Regions from separate parts of the Homo sapiens genome. Here region 2 is linked to region 1. The links come from fine-mapping of genetic effects on plasma protein levels. A gene starts in region 1. The other region holds a variant in brackets. All regions are shown on one strand. Distances are from middle to middle.

Region 1 (3,032 bases):
TGGGTTCCGGTGATTCTCGTGCCTCAGCCTCCTGAGTAGTTGGGATTACAGGCATGAACCACCATAACTGGCTTTTTTTTTTTTTTGTATTTTTAGTAGAGATGGGGCTTCACCATCATGGCTAGGCTGGTCTTGAACTCCTGACCTCAAGTGATCCACCCACCTCAGCCTCCCAAAGTGCTGGGATCACAGGTGTGAACCACCACACCTGGCTGGACTAACTCTTAATTGCAGAGTTCGTGTGCAATGTCTTTCAGAGTTCCTCATTAGAACTGAACTCAAATTGCCCACTGGAGTCTCTTGCTTGATAAAACACCCTTTATTGACTTTCTTTTCTCCCCAATCTCACTTTCCCACTTCCAGTGGTGCTTTCTAAGATTATCTCTTAAAACAAAAACAAAAACAAACTACTTGCAATTGAATTCTTGTTTCTGAATCTACTTCTGGGGGAACCCAAACTAAGAGAGCCGCTGAAATGGAATTGTATATTGAGAATTTAAGATGAGTCTATGGCATCTGGAATTTATGCAGTTGGAGCTGAATAAAAAATATTTCTTTCAGGAGTCAGGATCTTTGTCTCTGTGACAAAATTTCTTCCACACAAATCACTAAAGCTTTGAACAAAAGATGCGGAAGCTTTGTCTCTGGAAACCACCATTAATTTATGAGGGGAGGATAGGGGTTGTCTTTATTATTCCAGTGCTTTGGATATAGGAAGAAAAAGTCATTAAAGCTAGAAAATCTTCACTAATGGAATGTTTACTTATAAAATTATTCTTAACTCAAATTTTCTTTCCCGCTTAACATTTATTCTACCTCACTCATAATGCACTAGCAGCTAGTGTTAGAATATTTGGTCCAACAATACAAATAAAACTGTAGCTCAATTTTTTTTTTTTTTTTTTTTTTGAGATGGAATCTCACTCTGTCTCCCAGGCTGGAGTGCAGTGGTGCGATCTCAGCTCACTGCAACCTCCGCCTCCTGGGTTCAAGTGATTCTTCTCTCTCAGCCTCCTGAGTAGCTGGGACTACAAGTGCATGCTACCATGCCTGGCTAATTTTTTTGTGTTTTTAGTAGAGACGGGGTTTCACTGTATTGTCCAGGCTGGTCTCGAACTCCTGACCTCTTGGTCCGCTCGCCTTGGCCTCCCAAAGTGCTGGGATTACAGGCATGAGCCACCGCGCCTGGCCAACTGTAGCTCAGTTTCAATAGGAAATCTAAAATCTTGCAAAATAAGCAGCATTTTATTAAATGTATGAAGGTGATGTTGGGGACTTGCTAGAATCAATGCAAAGCTATGGGAAAATAAAGACCTGGTAGAATAAGACAAGATAAAAAGCAAAGGAGAGAAAATGGATGTGGATAATGACCCTGAGAAGAACTTTCCAACACAGTGATCTGATTATCAAAGGATTAAGTGAAGTTCTTGAGAAAATTAGTGATGTCCTCAAATATGTTTACAAAAATTGATATTCTTTCTGATTATTCTGTGAAAGTTAAGCATGAAGGGATGACTATTGGGTTGTATTAGGCTGTACTTTGGGGAAAAATTCTACTCCAGAACATTCTATTTAGATTTTGAGTGACAGAACTGCATTTAAATATTTTCTTTCATAAAATATTTAATCTCAAAGTCTGGCATATAACACCTTTTAAGAGAATCATGAAAACATCCACTTAGTTTAGTAGATTGAAACAAGAAGGAGGCTCATCCCTTGCCTTACAGAGTCTCCTTTGGTTGAAAATCACTTAAACATTGAACTGAGAACATTTGCTGTGTTTCCTGATTTATAGATATGTTTCTAAGAAACATATCTATAACTTCCAAACAGTCCCAGCTGGCTGTAGCTAAGGCTGTGTAATTGATAAGATGCATCTGGTTTCAAGGCACAGATTAAGTACAAGGTCAGGCTCTTGCTGTCGTTGGAGAATCCGGTTGGGGTAGGAGCTAAATCTCAGGACCACTTGCTCTATATATGAGTGCCAAGATAATCTAGAGCAGGGAGAGGCAGAGAGGCAGGCAGCCTGCTGGGCTCTTCCTGCTGTTGAAAACTTACCCGGCCCTTACAGAGGAAATCTTCCTCCTCTCTTCTGCCCTGAATGTTTTCCCAAACATGAAGGTAAGACAATAAATTCATTACTTTTGTAAATGAAGCTATCTTTTCAAATGAACGGGGGTAATATAAATGTAATTTAAACGAAGAGGTGTAATACCTAACTGAAAGACATCAAATAAATAGAAGGCCAGAGGAAAATACAGAAGAAAAAGACCTGGGGGTGATGTTTAGAAATCCTTATTTAAACATATTTAACAGTTCAGCCAAAGTGAATTCCTTTTTCTTATCTTGTGGTGAAATTATAGGTCCAGAGGTCTGGGAATCAGGAATTGGAGACAATGTTTATGAAAGTCCCGATAAAGTCATAAAGAAATACAATAGTACTATTGTTATTTCTTGGGAAAAACTTTCCTCTGGTGTATTTTTTTTTTTTTTTTTTGCTTGTTTGGATTAGGAGCCATGCAGTAGGGTCCTGCGATTTATCTAAGAGCTAATAGAAAAGCAAATTTGCAGGCTTGGAACTTGAGAATTTGAAATCCTGGATGAAAGAGTCAGCATTGTGAGAATAGAAGATATGAGTAGATGGAATAAAACTAAAGGTCTACCAAGTATACATGTTGGCCCAATGCAAAAAGGCCAAATATTAAAAAACAAAACAAAACACAACCAAAAAGCTATTCAACAAAAGATAAGACCAAAGATAGAAATCGCTATCATAGACTAAATCTCTGGAATGCAAAAATAAGTTGAGATTGCTATTCAAATTTTATTATTGTAAATTTTGGTATTTAAACTTTAAAAATGTTGCATTGTAAGACTGTAGGAATAATTTCACAGATCTGTCAGTGGCTAGATTGCTTCCATAGTCACTGTATTGTCCATTGGGGCACCGAATCCAAGCTCGCTCATTATTGGGGTTAGAGGAGGAGCAAGATATGGATCTTGATTAAGCCATGCCTTCTGTGAAATTAAAT
Region 2 (2,500 bases), 63 kb after region 1:
GTGTGCATGTGTCTTTACAGTAGAATGATTTATAACCCTTTGGGTATATACCCAGTAACGGGATTGCTGGGTCAAATGGTATTTCTGGTTCTAGATCCTTGAGGAATTGCCATACCGTCTTCCACAATGATTGAACTAGTTTACACTCCTACCAATAGTGTAAAAGCGTTCCTATTTCTCCACATCCCCACCAGCATCTGTTCTTTCCAGACTTTTTAATGATCACCATTCTAACTGGCGTGAGATGGTATCTCATTGTGGTTTTGATTTGCATTTCTCTGGTGACCAGTGATGATGAGCATTTTTTCATATGTTTGTTGGCTGCATAAATGTCTTCTTTTGAGAAATGTCTGTTCATATCCTTTGCCCACTTTTTGATGGGGTTGCTTGTTTTTCTGTTGTAAATTTGTTTAAGTTCCCTGTAGATTCTGGATATTAGCCCTTTGTCAGATAGATAGATTACAAACATTGTCTCCCATTCTGTAGGTTGCCTGTTTACTCTGATGATAGTTTCTTTTGCTGAGCAGAAGCTCTTTAGTTTAATTAGATCCCATTTGTCAATTTTGGTTTTTGTTGCAATTGTTTTTGGTGTTTTAGTCATGAAGTCTTTGCCCATGCTTATGTCCTGAATGGTATTGCATAGGTTTTCTTCTAGGGTTTTTATGGTTTTAGGTTTTACATTTAAGTCTTTAATCCATCTTGAGTTAATTTTTGTATAAGGTATAAGGAAGGGGTCCAGTTTCTGTTTTCTGCATATGGCTTGCCGGTTTTCCCATCACCATTTATTAAACAGGAAATCCTTTCCCCATTGCTTTTCTGAGCCCAGGAATTTGAGGCTGTAGTATACACTGATTAGACCTATGAATAATCACTGCTCTCCAGCCTGGGCAACAAGACAGACCCTGTCCCTAAAAAATAAAAATAAATAAATAAATAAAAGTGGTGTTTTAATAATTTCAGACGGCAAAATATCCAACTGGATGAAAGTTAATGAAACTCTCCTGGTGGAACATCACTAGAGCACATAAATAAGTGACAGCTGTGAAAAGTTTGGTTTCAAC[A/G]GTAGGCTGGGCATTAGGACTCTATTGGGGTTGTTCATTTTAAGTTGTCACATTGTTTTGAGGGGAGGGGTGGGAGAGGGGGAGCTGTTTTGGTTTTTAGATATTCATGGGTCAATTACGTGCCAGGCTCTGTGTGACATGTCTTTCAGTCCACCCTAACAGTGAACTTACGTCTTCCTCCTTGTCCTCTAATATGAAAAAGCAGAACAAGTGTGTCTGCATCACATAAGACTTTTTTAAAAAGATGGTTTAGGAGAGCAACGACCCTTATATTTTGCTCTCTTTTATCTTTAGAAATTGCCTGTGTTCTACCTGTACTGATGGATGGCATACAGAGTCACCCCCAAAAACCTTTCTACACAGTTGGTGAGAAGGTGACTGTTTCCTGTTCAGGTGGCATGTCCTTAGAAGGTCCTTCAGCATTTCTCTGTGGCTCCAGCCTTAAGTGGAGTCCTGAGATGAAGAATGCCCGCTGTGTACAAAAAGGTGAGTGGCTTCCATGTCTATCCAAGGACACTTGTACCCAGGCAAGTGAGAGTCCTTGTGGCGACCTTCATGGTACTGTATCACCATAGCTGTGAGTCATTCCCTCCATTCTTGCTCCTTAAGATAGGGTCAGTTTGTAGACTGAGTAACAGATTTTCTTCACATGGCACAGAAAGACTCATGAAAGCAAGGAAAGGCAAGGATAGCCTGGTGATTCTGAAACTTTTAACTTAAATCATCCTTGTGAAAGATTAGCTTTATATCTGTTATGGTGCCAAGACAATAAAGGATTTTTAAAATCTGTTTTTTGTTTGTTTGTTTGTTTCCTCTAGATTTTTTTCCCCTGCATTTTTCATAAGTACAGAGTTGAGATCATAATTTATTTAAAGTTCTGTATGTTTCATTTTTGGGCTTTCAAAGAGTTTATCAGTATTTCTGAAATTGAAAATTTAGAAAGCATTTTCATTTAACACTTTAAAGCAGACATTATTGAAGGAAAAGTGTTGTGATTCATGAAATTGTTCTTAATGTGGAAACCCAAAAATCCAGTATTTTAACACCAAGAAAATTAAAATGGTCTTTTAAGAACCTAAGGTAGAAAGGATTTAGAAAGCCAAATTATTTCTTTTTAGAGGTAATTTTAGATGAGATAGATTTGTTTGACAATAACCCCTTATTTATTCTTTGTTTACATTTTTTAAATAAATGGAAAATATTGTATTTGTAACAAAAATGAGAATGAAGAAAAACTCACTTGCATACTATTTTATGTGATATTATCTCTCTAGTATGTGATTTTTAATTAAACGCTGAAATTTATTTTTAATAGTGAGGATGAAGTACTAGATTTCACAGGTGATGGTGTGAGGTGAATTAGATGTTTCTAACTAAGTTCTCCATGCGACAGGGTATGGAGCACTCAGATACTGATGGTAGATATGGGCTGTGATGTG

What was found. PIP is the chance, under the fine-mapping model, that this variant and not a neighbour inherited with it causes the effect. The UK Biobank Pharma Proteomics Project read protein levels with antibody pairs (Olink). The fine-mapping took linkage between variants from a reference panel, not from the people measured, so its PIPs are less certain.
Region 2: its variant is fine-mapped to the plasma level of the C7 protein (UK Biobank, PIP above 0.99).

The regions. Positions count from the first base shown.
Region 1 is chr5:40,907,496-40,910,527 of GRCh38, forward strand. It overlaps C7 (complement C7), which reads left to right and starts at 2,002. Exons shown (of 18, transcript NM_000587.4): 1 at 2,002-2,121. The coding sequence starts at 2,116.
Region 2 is chr5:40,971,048-40,973,547 of GRCh38, forward strand. C7 (complement C7) reads left to right here. Exons shown (of 18, transcript NM_000587.4): 15 at 1,356-1,547. Among named protein-coding and RNA genes, the nearest start is that of C7, 63 kb to the left of the region's middle. The variant A/G (reference allele first, on the strand shown) is at 1,062.